Regions from separate parts of the Homo sapiens genome. Here region 2 is linked to region 1. The links come from fine-mapping of genetic effects on gene expression. Tissue or cell type: whole blood. Region 1 holds a variant in brackets; the other region holds the start of a gene. All regions are shown on one strand. Distances are from middle to middle.

The links. PIP is the estimated chance that this variant, and not a neighbour inherited with it, causes the effect.
Region 2: it holds the start of HDAC11, and the variant in region 1 is fine-mapped to the expression of HDAC11 in whole blood (TOPMed, PIP above 0.99).

The regions. Positions count from the first base shown.
Region 1 is chr3:13,231,436-13,239,535 of GRCh38, forward strand. It overlaps a transcript of IQSEC1 not described here. Among named protein-coding and RNA genes, the nearest start is that of IQSEC1, 160 kb to the left of the region's middle. RefSeq lists enhancers at 400-901, 6,086-6,690, 6,691-7,294. The variant G/A (reference allele first, on the strand shown) is at 4,254.
Region 2 is chr3:13,476,693-13,484,792 of GRCh38, forward strand. HDAC11 (histone deacetylase 11) reads left to right here and starts at 3,614. Exons shown (of 10, transcript NM_024827.4): 1 at 3,614-3,657; 2 at 4,554-4,702; 3 at 6,772-6,872. The coding sequence starts at 3,656. HDAC11-AS1 (HDAC11 antisense RNA 1) reads right to left here and starts at 3,361. Exons shown (of 2, transcript NR_046690.1): 1 at 2,951-3,361; 2 at 295-393. RefSeq lists enhancers at 2,970-3,029, 3,679-4,335 and silencers at 3,490-3,979, 6,677-6,971.

The DNA.
Region 1 (8,100 bases):
CTTCTTGCTGCAGCCTCACATGGTGGGGAGAGAGAGAGGAAGCTAGCTTTCTCATCTCTTTTTATAAGGACACAAATTCCATCATGAGGGCTCCACCTGCATGACCTCACCACCTCCCAACGGCCCCACCTTCAAATATCAACATGATGGGGATTAGGGTTTTAACATGTGAACCTGGGGGACACAAACAATAGACACTATTATTCTCTATAAAATGGGGATGATGAGCCCTACTTTGCTGTCTCTACCAAATGCAATAATGAATGTGAATGTTTCTTCTAAACTATAAATTACTATGCCAAGACCCTAACTCTGATTTCCACCTAAGCACTGACTTTCCCAAGAGCACAACGGGTCTCTAAACCTCAGGAAGTTGGACTATTTTTATTTTGAACTTGACCAAAGCTGTTCATGGTTTCAGAAACTCACACCCCCTTTGGCGATGCCGTGCATGACTTCTGAGCTGCTGACATCTGCTCTTCCAATGCACTTGCAGCAGTCACATTCTGGTGCTCCCACGCCGAGAGGCGGATGTCACTGCCTCCCCTGCCTCGGAGGAGAAACATGCCGGGCCCCAACCTAGTGCACTGACGTGTTGAAACCTGGATTACTTGGATCATAATTCACTTTCCTTTGCCTTCTACTTTATAATAGTTAGGGCACTGTACTGGTTTTTTTATAAAATACGTGCTGGGTGTGCTTTCTCAGCTGAGTCTCACTTCAGGACGACAAAGGGAGTTGCGAAGTGTTTGCTATCCTAGATGGGTTGTTCTGAGACCCTGCACTAGCCACTCAGCCCCACCACTGTCCTATCATAGACAGGAGGAAACAAGAACATGGGCCAAGGTGCCCAGCTAGCAGGATCTGGGGGGCACCAACGCCGAGTGGCTTCTGCTGCCCTCTTCTCTGGAGGAAGGGGGTCCACTGCCCCCAACCCAGGCTAGGTCTCTGTCCACCTCCCTGATGACCTCCCTCTCTGGCAGGAGGCTGTCGCAGGAAACGCTTGTAGCAGTAATTCACAGGGAGGCGTCATCTGCATTCCCAGCAAGGCAGGGAGGTGGCAGGGAGAAGAAAGGCGGGGAGGCCTCTCACGGGGTGGTGACAAGCAGAGAGAGGACCCAGCCTGGCCCGGCTGCAGGTCTGGGGAGAGAGGGCAGGGGGCAGGTCAGATGTGACAGTCCACGAAAGTGAGCTGGAGTCAGGGGCGCAGGAGACAGAGCCACAGCCTCATGGGCTACACAGACTTGGAGAATAATGATAAAATTATGTATTAAATATTATTAGGTAATAAATAAAGAGTAGTGTACCCCAGTGTCCACAGCTGAGTGGATAAACACAATGTGGTCTATACACACCTTGGAATCGAATCCAACCATGAAATGGAAGGGAATTCTGACCCACACAACAATATGGATGAAGCCTGAGGACACTATGTGAAGCGAAATAAGCCCGTCACGAAACGTGAAAAACAGTCTCATTCTACTTGTGTGAGGTCCCTAGCAGGACATAAAGTAGAATGGTGGGTGCCCGGGGCTGGGGGAGGGAGGATGGAGAGTTGATGTTTAATGGAGGCAGAGTTTGTATTTGGGAGGAGGAAAAGGTCCTGGAGATGGGTGGCAGTGGTGGCTGCACAGCAAAGTGAAGGTACTAATGCCACCGCAATGTGCACTTAAAAATGGTGACAATGGTAAATGTTACGCTGTGTATTTTATCACAGAAAACAAAGTGTCACGTGAGGTGCTCATTAGAAATGCAGATTCCAGGGCAGAGTCTCTTAGAGACCCAGACTTCAGGTCTGGGACAGAGTCTGGGCACCTGCGTGCCAACAACCACCCCAGGGACCAGATGCAAGTGTTCTGGGAACACACTTTGAGACATGCCACCCTCCATCCAGCACTGTCCCTTCCTCCATCCTGAGGGGTCTGCAGGCCTCACCACTTTGCCTGCTCACTGGCGGCTGCAGACCGTCCTGGCTTCAGGCCCCTGTTCTGGCTGTGCTGTGGACTTGGCTGAGCCACCCGCTACCATTTCCCAACCTCCACTCACCTGGGAGCCTCCTGTGGCAGGTTCCACAGTCTGTCTATTCCACCGTGTGGACAGACCACATTATGTTTATCCAAGCCTCAAGGGGTTGGTCCCGGACTGTGCCCCAGCCTCCCCACCCAGCTCGACATAACCCCACTCTCTTCCCTTCCTCCCCTCCGCCTGACTGTCCTCACAGCCGGGTGGGGATTCTCCCTGCCACGTAGCCTGCTGTCTTTTCTCCTTGCTCTTGTTTCACAGATTCCTGGTTGGCTCCTTGAGAAACAGGTCCAGAGGTGCTGAACTCCCCAGGGAAGAGTGAGGGCTCCCGGCAGGCTCCTGGGGAGCAAAGCCCGGCTCCCTGCTCACATGTGGTATGGCCTTGGGCGGGGCACTTCCCCTCTCTGTGCCCTGTAACATGGGGATAATTCTAGTACCCAGAACCCCCAAAAAGTGGGGAGGGTGAATCAAGATAAAATGTGCAAACTGTTCAGACAAGAGGCCAGGCAGGTGAGTGCTGTTGAAGTGGGGGCTGCTGCAATGACTGACAAGGCGAAACTGACGCGCTCTGCATGCCACTTCCGGGATCCCAGTGGAATTTAAAATACAAGCTTCCCCTAGCTCTCCAATGCTGGGTTTGTCTAATTTCGTGCTTCAAAACTTTGGCACAGATTGTGCCTGTGTTTGTCTGTGTGTACCCCAGTGTCTATGTGGGTCTGTGGGTGTGAGCCCCCATGTCTGTGTGTGCCTGTGGGTGTGAGCCCCCGTGTCTGTGCCTGTGGGTGTGAGCCCCCGTGTCTGTGCCTGTGGGTGTGAGTCCCCGTGTCTGTGCCTGTGGGTGTGAGTCCTGTGTCTGTGTGTGCCTGTGGGTGTGAGCCCTGTGTCTGTGTGTGCCTATGGGTGTGAGCACCATGTCCATGTGAGCCTGGGCAGCTGCTCCACAGGAAGGGACCAAGACAATGGTTTAAGCTACACCACAGATGACACCTCTCCAGCAGGAAGCCTGGGGTCGAACCTGCCCCTGGGAGACCCCCTCCCTTCCCTGAAACACCTGAATTTCTTCTAAGTACCCCCCTACCCCATGTCATCTTGCGCTATTACTGCTGCTGCTGACACTAATACCTACTTAAGTGGGCTGGTACGAGAAAAAGAGAAAAGAAACCCACACAGGTTATGCCTGCAGCAGCAGCGAGAATCAAGTGAAATTGCCCAGTGCATGCCCAGTCCCCAAATCCCACACACAAGATCGGATTTTCTTCCCTTTCCCTCCCCTGCCTCTCACAACTCTCGGGTGTGACTAAATGTGGAAAATATTAGTGTTCCTTAATTCTTTCCTGGAGTTTACAACAAATGAGAAATGTATGCTACTATTGAGGTCCCTGTGTTTCTCCCCGCATGAAAGCTAATAAATCTCTCTCTCTCCCTGACTGTACACACAGTGTTGGTTGTCAAATGTGATTTGAGTTTGCCGGCAGTCAGCCACGAGGTGTGGGTGATTGCTGAGGCCCTGGGAAGAGATGGGTGCAGGAGAGGTGGATGTGTGGAGCCGGGGCATGGGGCCCACGGGTCTGGGGACGGGCTCTGGGGGTCTAGCGAGGTGGGCTGGCTTCGTGTGTCTGTGCATTTTATTTTCTCTGATGGAAGAGATCCATCGGTTTCCTCTGTGGGATCTGAGACCCAGAAAAGGATTAAAAGGGAGAGTCCCCATCCAAAGTGGGGTGGGGCTGCCCCGTCTCACAGAGAGGGGGCCTGGTGGGCCCCTCAGTCAGGGCTTCTCCCCCAGCTCTCCAGGGAGCCACTGTGGCCTGGCTCCCACATCCTGCCACACCCTCCCCGGCGCTGGGGTCTGAGAGGTGTGGCCACACCCTTCCCCTGGCTGGTGGCAGTTACCAATCAATCCCAACCACTGCTGCTGGCCCCGGGGGACCTGCAGGCACCTGCATCCTTGGGCTCAAAGGTGGGGAGAGCCCAGATCTCTCCAGAAACCTCCCTGCTCACAAGTTGGGGCTGTGCACCCCAACAACAAAATCCCTGGTGCTGAGCTGGTTGGGGGAGTGGGAGCACCTCAGCAGGAGGGGGAAATTGCCCAGAGGTGCCCCTCTGAGACTGCTGGAGGTGGGTGCTGTCTGCAGACACGCAGGCACCATGAGGCCAGCACATCACTCCCGCTGCCTGTGGACATTGCTCTGGGACCCCAGGTGGCCCGGGCGGAGGAAGAACAAGATCCTTGT[G/A]GCAGCAAAGGTGGCAGCAAATGCCCTATCACATTCTTCTTCCCTTTGGGAAATGTCTGAAGTCATTGCCACTGCAGGCTTAACATCCAGTGCCTGCAGAGAGGGGAGGGAGGGCAACACGGAACCAATGCATGTCCTTGCTACTCTGGTGAACCTGGTCTTTAAATCCTGTTCTTATGCCGCCCCGTTCCCTGTAGCCACCAGCCCCGCTGAGACAACCCGCTGCGGCAGACAGATTGGGGGTTCTGGTCCCGTTCCTGGTCCTGTCGCCTTGTAGTGTGGGACCCTCAGCAAGGAACGCAGCTTCCTTAAGAGTTTGTCTCCTGAAAATGAAGTGAATGGATCTTGCCCCATGGGGCCTTACGAGATAGATGTATGAATGCCGGGCCCTGGCGCCGTGCCAGGCTCACCAACCTTTACTCATCTCTGTTCCCTTTGTTCCCGCTGCACAGAAGTTCAAGGGCAAGAGACTAAGGCTGCAAGCTCCCCACTGAGAAGCCAGGCAGGATGAATTCTCAGATCAGAGCCTGCACTCAGGTGGGCGTGTGCCCTCCAACCCTCCAAGGCCAATGTCAGCCCCCTCACAGGTCCCCCAAGGCTGCATCCTTCACATACTTAAGGCCAACTGGGGTGAAGCACACAGCCAGGCTGTGCTGGACTGGAAACTGTTCTGACAACCCCAGATCTTCCAGTTTTCGACATGAAACTGGCCATCTTTTCTGCGCATGTGATGTTTCCATGGGCCAGGTCCTCTGCCCTGCTTTCGTTAGTGGGGACACGGTGGTTCCAGATGGTCCTAAGGGTGCTCCAAACTTGTCCTGCTAACACATGGTGCAGTGACGAGAGGCTCACTACCTGTCAAGGGCCTTCACCCCATCCTCAGGTGCTTCGGAGTCACAGACCCCCTCTCACTGAGCCAACCATCCCCTCCACCTTCTCTGCCTGTGACACCCCCTGCAGAGGTGGAGATAGCAGCCAGCTGGGTCCACAGACGTGAGAAGGCGCCAGCTCCACCCGGGCCCCTGTGCTAGGGCTGGGACACAGAGGGAAGGGTGGGCTCGCTGCCATCAGTCTACGCATCATCTACGCTGCCATCAGCCTCCAGCTGGCTGTCTGCACTTGAGGCCTCTGGTCACCCCATGCAGCTGATGATGCCCCACCCCCACCCAGGGTACTTTGGGAAGGGGTGTTTTTGGGGAAACAACAAAATGCCCCCCTCCAGCCAGGTTTTGAAGGCTGCTCTGCTTGTCTGAGGCCGAGGGCCCGGCCCGGGCGCACTGGGTGGCCCCACACCTGGCTCACAACACCTGCCCGAGGAGGGGCTTCCTGGTGTGGAGGGGATGTGACTGTGCTCTGCTGGACACGGATCCCAAGGCAGGGCTGCACTGGAAGGTCTCCCTCCGCCTCCCAGAACCTCTCCACTTTCCTCTGATTTCCATAGCTGCTTCCATAGAGGTTTCTTTCAGAAATAGGATTCTGCTGCCAACAATTTACAAATGTAAAGGGTCTGAAAACCGTGGCCATGGAAGAGCCCTTTCTGTGTGGATGGGATGACGCCTGAGCAAGAGTCCCCCAGAACGGGGTCACTGAGCTGACAGCAGGGACACCCTGTGGAAGGTGGGGACAGGCCCCATCATCCTCCGAGGCTCTGGACAGGGCCTCCCGTTTGCACAAAACCAAGCAACACTGGCCTCCACCATGGTCTCAGGACACAGGAATCCTCCCATTCTGAAGGTTTCTTCCAGTGATCTTTATTTATTCCCTCGGTTCCTGCCAGTAAGCACACCTGGATGATGGAGCTATCGCACGAGGGAAGTGATCAGGACAGGGCACTCTGAACCGGTGCAGGCCCCGGTTCCCCCACAGACACAGCTGAGCTGCTGGGCTGCGCACTTCCCCGCCATGTTTTCTGCCAGTAAAGCTGCTCCAAGGCTGCAAGGCAGGACTCCACAGGAAAGCACAGGACTTCCCACAAGCAGCCCTGCCCTTGGAGATGGTGCACTTGCAAATCCTCAGCTCCGCGGTCGGTTTCCTCCTCTGTAAAATGGGTTGATGCCTGCCCTGAGGCCACTCTGTGGAAATGACATCGAAGGTGATAGCTCCTGCGAGCTCTGGCATGAAGCAGATGCTTCCCAAGCCCAGCTCAGCTCGGAGGAGACCAGGAGCTCAACCAGGGGCCCAGAGCCAGAGCAGCCAAGCCCAGGCAGGGGGCGGGCCGAGGTCACTCCCTGTGGAGGCTTGGCCAGTCCCCAAATGCTTCCTCTGAGACACTCCTTAGGCCTGCATGGGGGACTGCAGAGCTGTGGCCTTACTCTCCCCACCAGGGTACACCTGGAGGCACTGACCGCTGAGCATCCACGTGCAGATGGGACAAGCACAACGCATGGTCGGGCAGGCCTGGGGCAGATCCTGGCACCCACCGCGTGCCCCAACCAACTAGCTGGACTATTCGCACCTCCACGTGCCCATCTGGAAAATGGGGTGCAGACACATCAGCCCACGGCGGTCACCGCCCTCCACCTGCTTTCCTCTCCTGGTCCTGGCAAGACACATGCAGGACCCTGTCACTCCTCCACACAACCCTCAACAGCTCCCTGAGTCCAGACCACGCACAGCAACCCTTGTCCAGCCCTGGCGTCCTCCCCTTGCACTTCTCTTGCACCCCAAGCTCCAGCCCCAGGGCCAGCACACTTGCCATTCCCTCTGCCAGGAATGCTCTCCCCAGAACCCCAGGGCTCATCCCCTTCCTCCAGGCCTCTACTCAGCTGTGGCCTCCTCAGAGATGGCACCACCTCTATCCCCGACAGAACCTTCATGGCACTTGTCACTCTCATGTCAGGTTTTGTCATCCATCCTTCCCAGTAGGAGCTCGACACAGGCAGGACCACGTCTTGTCCCCACCACATTCCAGAGCCTAGAGCAGGGCTCAGCACATGGCTGGCATCACCACAATCCCGGCTCAGCAAGGAGGGGTCAGCAACCTGGGCGCTGGGCCATCCTCTGCTCCCTGCCGTGCCATGCTCTCCTAGAAACAGTGAGCTCCTGCCTCAGTTTCCCCATGTCCTTGAGGATGGCCTCCACTCTGAGTCCAGTCCAAGCCACACACCACCTCCTGGGTGTGCAGCAGCCCCCAGGCCCTCCTACAGTCCCTGGGAGGGCTCTGGCCATTAAGGACAGGCCTCCCTCTGAGTGGCCCCACATGCTTCTCCTAAGGAGCTGGACATAAAGAGACCAACACCGTCATCTCCAGTTCTCTGGGAGGAGGGGGATTGTGCTTCAAGGAGCCCATGCTGGGGACTCGACACGCCCACCAGCCTTTCCTCATTCCTGTCTCCGCTTGAGGACATGGGGTTCCCCGAGGATGCCCCCTGCTCCCTGTGAATCTCCCCTGCTGGGGTGGAGGACAACACAATGAGTCTCTCAAAGGAGCAGAGTTAGAGCAAGTTATGGATTTCCTTTGGTTGCACTAAATTAAAACTGGAAGCCGGCTGCCCAGGATGTGAGGGCTCCGGTTTATGCTGGCGGACAGCGGCTCAGTCCCAGTCCACTGGGCCCACTCCACAGGCAACAGCCACCCACAGCACAGGCACATAGTGCGGAATGAACTGAGGGCTTTGGGGGCTGCCCCATTGAGCCCCTGCCTCCTGGCCTGGCTGAGATCTGGAAGAGGCAGGCGGGACAGGAACCCATGGATTTGGCACACCGCCGGGCGTGGTCCTCACCATCTCGGGCCTGCTTCACACCCTTTTCCATCCAGGCATCAGAGCCGCGGACACAGGAGACAGAAAGACCCTCGTGTTCTGGGTCCTCCTGGCCGTGAGGCCCTGGGAAAGCCAAGGTCTCTGCT
Region 2 (8,100 bases), 250 kb after region 1:
GTGTGGCCTCAAACCTCCTCTCAGGCTTCCCCGTGGCCCATAACTAGCTATTCTCACTGGTTCCAGGAAACCACTCCCTCTCCTGGACCCTTCAGGTTTAGGGGTGAGAGCTCCCTCCCCTCTGTTGCCAACCCCAGGTGCTGCACCATCTCCTGTTGGTCCCCTCAACCTCACCCACATCTCAGGTAAATGGCCTGTTCATTAAACTTTTTTCAGAAATCCCTGTGGAGTGAGACCTCTCTTTCTTGCTGGGGCCCTCCTGGTGCATAGAGTTACATAGAAATACAACTTATATTTCCTTGAGAAAATATATTTTCTTATTTGAATGCAAGCTCCTTCTGGCCTCCGGGACTTTGAACCTGCAGTATCTTCTGGTTGTTTAAGAACTCATCTCTTCACCAATAAAACAAACAAAACATGTTTTACATATTTAGCTGAGCTTGGCACTCATTAAGGGCATAACAAATACTAGCTAGCATTACTGTTATTGTTACCGTTGTGTTAAATGTGTATGAAATCACAGGGTCTTGGAATGGAAATAGAGGTGCTCACTTGAATTGAAAGGGGCATGGTTTTAATGTTGTAATAGGATGTCTCAATCTAATATTAGTTAGTGTTTTGAAATATTGTATCTGTGCCAATAATTCATGTTTGGTGCATTTCTGTAATATCCTTTGCGTGCCTGTATTTTTCTTTTTTTGTGTGACAGTCTTGCTCTTGTTGCCCAGGCTGGAGCGCAGTAGCGTGATCTCAGCTCACTGCAACTTCCGCCCCTGGATTCAAGCTCCTCCTGCCTTGGCCTCCTGAGTAGCTGGGATTACAGGCACCTGCCACCACACCTGGCTAATTTTTGTACTTTTTAGTAGAGATGGGATTTCGCCATGTTGGCCAGGCTGGTCTTGACCTCCTGACCTCAGGTGATCCGCCCATCTTGGCCTCCCAAAGTGCTGGGATTACAGGCGTGAGCCACCGCGCCCAGCCGTGCCTGTATTTTTCAAAAGAAGTGTTATATTTGGGACTTTCTTATTTGTTTTAAGTTGAAATATATTTCAATATTGCATGAAAGGGGAAAAACAGTTAAGTATACAATGTTCAATAAGTCAGTGTCTTGTTTCATTAAATGCCATTTAAAAATAAAATACATATGGTTAAAAAGTGAAAAAATGTATTTCTTCAAAGGGGCCTTCCCTGACCACTGTCCAAATCAGGGACCCCATTATTCTCTCTCTCACAGTCTCAGCCTATGCCTTTCACAGCAGTTACCACATTTTGTAATCACAATTTTCCTTCCTAGGTTAAGGCTTGTCTCTCCCACTAAACTATTAGCTTGACAAAGGCTTTCTGAACTCATCTGCTCTGTGCAGCTGTGTCCCCAGTGCTGTGTCTTAGTGAGCAGACACACTAGGATACTGCAACAAAGAGGCCCCCAAACACAGCAGCGTGCATAACACTTATTTCTTCCCCACGTGATAATGCGGCCGGTTGGCCCAGGCTTTCATGGTGGTTTGAAGGTGTTCACAAGCTCCAGGGCCTCCGCAGACCACTTAACTCTTTAGCTACCAGGACACAATTTTAAAAACCCTTGGCCAGGCATTGTGACTCATGCCTGTAATCCCAACACTTTGGAAGGCCAAGGTGGGAGGATCGCTTGAGCCCAGGAGTTAGACACCAGCCTTAGCAATATAGTGAGGCTGTGTCTCTTAAAAAATAATTTAAAAATTAAAAAAATTTAAAAACCCACTTATTCAGACCAATCCCACTCTCTTTGGCCTCAGCTTCAGGTCCAGGCTGCCCAGATCCTCATTCTCCCAACCAGAGGATCATCTGTGTGGCTTCCCAAACTACAGAGCAAGTTCCCTGAGGGGAAGTCGGTCTCTCACAAATGCCACAGGGCCACTGCATGCACTCTGTCACTTTATAAAATAGTACTTATTCCTTCTGTGGTTTACATCTGCCCACATCCCTGACCTTTGAGTGAGTTACTTCACCATTCTGTGCCTCAATTTCTTTATCTATAAAATGGGGATGACAATAGTTTGCCTCCTAGGACTGTCAGAAGAGTTCGACAAGCAAAAAGCATTTGGACTTCAACTTAGCACATGACAGATGGTCTCTGAATAATAATCAACATTATTGTCTCTTGATTCCCTGGACTTGCCCATGAAATCCAGAGAATGAAGTGCAACCAGAACTTCATTTTCTTCCTTTTTTTTTTTTTTGAGATGGAGTCTCACTCTTGTCGCCCAGGCTGGATTGCAATGGCGCGGCCTCACCGCAACCTCCCCTCCCCGGTTCAAGCGATTCTCCTGCCCCAGCCTCCCGAGTAGCTGGGATTACAGGCGCCCTTCATCACGCCCAGCTAATTTTTTGTATTTTTAGTAGAGACGGGGTTTCACCATGTTGGTCAGGATGGTCTCGAACTCCTGACCTCAGGTGATTCACCCGCCTCGGCCTCCCAAAGTGCTGGGATTACAGGCGTGAGCCACCGCACCCGGCCCAGTACTTCATTTTCAGATGCAGACATGAAGGACCAGAAGGCTGAAGCAACCTGCCCAAAGCCACTATGCTGGCGGGTGGCCGAGTTTGGGTTTAATCCAGGCCCGAACCTCAGTTCCCTCAAGATAAAGTTGGGGTGATTATGGCACCTTTCTCAGGATTAGGTTGTGAGGCTCAGATGCCATCATGCAATCATGGCAGGCACACGGGGGCCCCTCTTCAAACGTCTGTGCGCTTCCCTTGTGCCCCGCCCTGGCACACAGCCGCCCCCGCGGAGCCCAGGGATCCCAGCCCGGCAGTCCTCCGTCAGCTGCTTCTGTTTGGATGGCGGGGACGGCTGGGCCGACAGAGAGGCCCATTGTCTCCGTCCTCTGGGGCTCTATTGTTGGGGCCTCCTCCTGGGTTGCAGCCCCACGGACAACCCCAGCTGTCGCTTGGGCCTGGCTCAGCTTACCCCGGCGGTGAGGGTGCGGGTCGGGGACGGAGACGCGTGCACCCTGAAGACAGTAACTAGGCCTGCTCTACAGAGGGAAACGCAGGCTCTGAGAGCCTACATGTCTTCGCCGGGAGTGCTTGTCCCGGAGCTGCTCGCAGACTGGGCCGGGGGTGGGCTCGGGTCGGAGAGGTCACGGGGCTCCTTAGGTCACAGGCGGCAGGGCCAGAGAAACTCCCCCGCCCCTACGTTTAACTCGCGGAAACAAGGGCCCAGAGAGCCCAGACGCCAGCCCAAGGTCACACAGCGAAGCCCCGGCACAGCCCGCCGGGAACCTGTCGTTTCTAACCCCCAGCCTCTCGCCGTTTCTACCCAGCTTGGGAAGCGCAGGAACAGGACATACGGTGGTCGCGCCCCTTCCGCGAGGCCGGGGTGAAACCCGCTTGGCCCTCCCGCCAGGGGGCGGAGCTTCCGAACCAGGCGGGATTCCACCGGGTATTTGCCTGCGGAGGCGGGACTTCGGGCTTGATGGGCGTTGGGGGTGGCCTTCCTGCGGGCAGGCTCTCTGTGTCGCAACACTGGCGGGGCGGGCCAAATCGGCCAGAGCTCTGCCCCCAGAGGACGCGGCTAAGCCCGGGGGCGTGTCCTGGGCTGGCCCCACCCGCGCCCCGCCCCGCCCCGCCCGGTCGCGGAGCTGCGGCCAGCTTTGGGAGGGCCGGCCCCGGGATGTGAGTGCCGCGGGGCGAGGGCGGGGGTGGGCTCCCAGGGGTCCCGGTGGGCGGGCGCGCTAGGGCGAGGGCGGGGACGGCCGGGCGGGCGCGCCAGGTAAGGGCCCAGATTTGCTGGTGAGGGGTGAGGGACGCTCGGGACGGGTGTTTCCAGGCCCTCCCGGCGCGCCAGGCCAGCCCCGCGCCCCTGCTCGGTGGCCCGAGGGACGCGCGCCGGCCGCGGGCCTGGGCCCGGACCCGGAGCGGTCGGGCGATGTGCGCGGGTCTGACGTCTGCGCTGCCCAGCCCCCTGGCTACGCGGACGCCCCCACGGAGGCAGCCACTGGGGCGGATTTCTGTCTCTGGGTGACGACTGCCAGGGTGTGATGGGAAGGGTTAGCAGCGCAGCGGGGTCAGGGGATCCCCGCCCCCCGCCCTGGCTCAGGTTGGGTCCCGACTTGGGTTTCTGAGTGCTTACTGTGCTCAGCTCCTCAGTTGCATTCTCTGAGTCCTCACAACAGCCACACATTTTGCAGCCGAAGCCTTGTGCCACACAGCTGTGGGGGCATTTATTACGGTGCAGAGGTGATGCGCGGAGGCCTTGCAGCCAGACACACCTGAGTGCACGCCTGCTTCTCCACAGACCTGCACTGTGACCTTGGGCACACCTGGTCTGCTCTCTGAGCCTCTGGTGCGATTGTGGTGCCTACCCCCAGGGCTGCTGTGAGGACTGGATTGGAATTGGGTTCCGGGAAAGGCAGCCAGTTTAAGCAGCTGTTGTTGAGGGGCCCTTGTCTGCGGCTGAGGGGCTAGTGGTGCTGGGCAATGGCTGGTGGGTCAGTCCAGGCGGGCTCGGGAGGGAGCTGCTTTCTGCCGAGGCTGCCCCAGCTGTGCGTCTGTCTTTTTCCACACGGTAGGCTACACACAACCCAGCTGTACCAGCATGTGCCAGAGACACGCTGGCCAATCGTGTACTCGCCGCGCTACAACATCACCTTCATGGGCCTGGAGAAGCTGCATCCCTTTGATGCCGGAAAATGGGGCAAAGTGATCAATTTCCTAAAAGGTATGGAAGGTCCCCCTTGGACTCTCATCTGCTTCCTCCAACCCACCTGTCCTCTCCGTCCTCATCCCCAACATAAGCCTCAGGCTCTCTCCCATCTTCAGTTTCAGCCCTCGGATGGCCTTCCACCCATGCTTCCGCCCAAAATGATTTTTCCAACACAGACTCCTAATCACGATATGATGTCCCTGACTCAGACTCTCCCTGGCTCCCCATCCTGTGGGCCTAAGTCCTGCCTCTGCCCAAGAGGCCTAGTGGAAAGGTAGCTGATTACTGATGGGCACAGGGAAGGTGAAGCTTGGAGGAGTCCATTTCCTAAGGTTCAGAGAGTCAGGAGGTAGAGCACCTCCACCGCACCTCTCTTGATTACAGATGGGGGAAATTGTGTCCTAGAATGATTAGGAAACATGTGCACCCAATTCCAGTCCAGTCCTCACAGCAGCCCTCGGGGTAGGCACCACAATCGCAGCAGAGGCTCAGGAGCTCACTGTAACCTCCGCCTTTCAGGTTCAAACAATTTTTCTGCCTCAGCCTCCCAAGTAGCTGGAATTACAGGCGTGAGCCACCACACCCGGCCCTGATTTCTTAATATGGCACTCATTATAAGATTGTAAAAGCCCACCTGTAGACCGAACTGGGCACACTGGCTGCCTGCTTGTGACCTCTTTCCAGGGAAGGACACAGCTCCCATTAGTGGCTGAAGTAACACAGTTACAAGAGGCGGAGTTGGGTTTGGAACTCAGAGCTCCAGGCGCCCTACCTTTAGGGCTCATCCCCTTGAGCAAAATGATGCTTCGAAGAGCATATCGTTTTAACTGTGGTTTGTAATCAAGGGGCCTGATTTAGGTGGGAAATTCACTTAAACTTGTTTTAAAAGGAAACATTATGTCATCAAAATGGGAAAAGGCAGTTTCACTTGCCATAAATAGGTCATGGTAAAAAAGTAAATGCAATGAAAACAACAGTATAATTCAATCCAGGCTGGTTACTATTGCCTGCAGGCTGTGAGACTGATTAGTGGTTTGAACGGAAGATGAGCAAAGCACAGGCAGGTGTTGCGAGGCCATGCCACACTGAGCCTCCTGTAATATCATCAGAAGGTGGAGGGAGGCCGGGCGCAGTGGCTCGTGCCTGTAATCCCAGCACTCTGGGAGGCCAAGGCTAGGAGAACACTTGAGGCCGGGAGTTTGAGACCAGCTTGGGCAACATAGCAAGATCCTGTCTCTACAAAATAAAAATAAAAAACTTAGCTGGGGGTGGTGGTATGCACCTATAGTCCTAGCTACTTGAAATGCTGAGGCAGGAGGATCACTTGAGCCCAGAAGTTCGAGGGTGCAGTGAGCTATGGTTGTGCCACTGCACTCCAGCCTGGGCTACAGAGCAAGACCTTGTCTTGCATTTATTTATTTGTTTATTTATTTATTGAGACAGGGTCTCACTCCCATCACCCAGGCTAGAGTGCAGTGGCGGAATCAAGGCTCATTGCCACCTCAACCTCCCTGGCTTAAGTGATCCTCCCACCTCATGTTTTTGATATTTTGTAGAGATGCGGTCTCACTATGTTGTCTAGGCTGGTCTTGAACTCCTGGGCTCAAGCAATCCACCTGCCTCAACCTCCCAAAGTGCTGGGATTACAGGCGTGAACCACCACACCTGGCCAAGACCCTGTCTCTTTAAATGAATTAAAAAAAAAAAAAGGGCGGGGGGAAGGTGGAGGGGGAATTCCTAAGAAGAGTTTTTCTCACTCTGAGGGTCAACATCCCTGACCCTTGTGCCACCTGCTCCTGAAGGTTGTCTAGCACACCTGAGCTCTCCTTGTGACTATCAGTGGCTTGGGAAACATGGGGATTGCTGTGTGTACGATGTTCATTGCTCCCTGGCCAGAGGGACTGGCCACTGTCCACAGTGGCTGGGGAGGCTACCCCTTCTCAGAAGGCCCACAAGCCAGCAGTGCCTACCTACCCCTGGGGCAGGGGCTGCCACAGGCCAAGTCTGCAGCCTGTGGGAGGGTCTGGGGCTGGCCCTGGCCTTGAGGTCAGTGGGGAAGCAGGATGCTCCCTCTGTGGTTTCAGAAGAGAAGCTTCTGTCTGACAGCATGCTGGTGGAGGCGCGGGAGGCCTCGGAGGAGGACCTGCTGGTGGTGCACACGAGGCGCTATCTTAATGAGCTCAAGGTACAGGATGTCGGGCCTGGGGGGCTGCGGGCCTGGGGCAGGGGGCTGCTGGCCAGGAGTGGCCAGAGGCAGGAGGTGACTCAGCCTGGGGAAGCCAAGTCTCACAGGGCACCCATTCATGTCCCTAGTGTTGGAGGAACATGGGAGTCTGTGGTCCCCAAGAGAAGGAGAGAGGTCATAAAAAGGCAGACCTCAGTTTGGGCCAGGCCACTCTGAGGGTGGTGTCCTCCCCTTCTCCAGGGCGTATGAAAGCCTTCATAGAATTTTAGGCTTCTACATTATGACTTTCAAGCTGTGCTCTGTCGACACGCCTCCGAGACCCCAGCCCCTGTCCTCCAACCATACATAGCTCTTTCACTTTGGTCTATTTTGTTTGTTTGTTTGTTCATTTTTTTGTTGGTTTTTGTTCTTGAAATGGAGTCTCACTCTGTCGCCCAGGCTGGAGTGCAGTGATGTGATCTCGGCTCATTGCAACCTCCGCCTTCCGGGTTCAAGCAATTATCCTGTCTCACCCTCCTGAGTGAGTAGCTAGGATTACAGGCGCGTGCCACCATGCCTGGCTAATTTTTTTTGTATTTTAGTAGAGATGTGGTTTCGCCGTGTTGGCCAAGCTGGTCTCGAACTCCTGAACTCAGGTCATCTGCCCACCTCGGCCTCCCAAAGTGCTGGGGTTACAGGCGTGAGCCACCGCACCCACCCTATTTTTTATATTGGGCTGAAGTTTAAGACTCTGGTCTAAGTACTTCTGCTGAAGTTTTGTTGAAAATTGTTGGTCTAAAAACTAATTTGAAACCCTCAGGGCTCAGCAGAGAAGAGAAACAAGTGGGAGGGCCGGTGGTAGAGTCTGAGGTGAACTCCTGCCCCTTCCCAAGGGGCGGCTCCTCAGCTCCACTGTGGGCCCGGCATGGCCAGAGCACCTGGTCTTCAAAGAGAAGCCAGGAATCCAGATTATTAAGTGACATTTCCTGATTTTTTTTTTGAGACTGAGTCTCGCTCTTGTTGAGCAGGCTGAAGTGCAGTGGCACGATCTCAGCTCACTGTAACCTCCGCCTCCCGGGTTCAAACAATTTTTCTGCCTCAGCCTCCGAAGTAGCTGGAATTATAGGGGTGAGCCACCACACCCGGCCCTGATTTCTTAATGTGGCACTCATTATAAGATTGTAAAAGCCCACCTGTAGACCAAACTGGGCACACTGGCTGCCTGCTTGTGACCTCTTTCCAGAGAAGG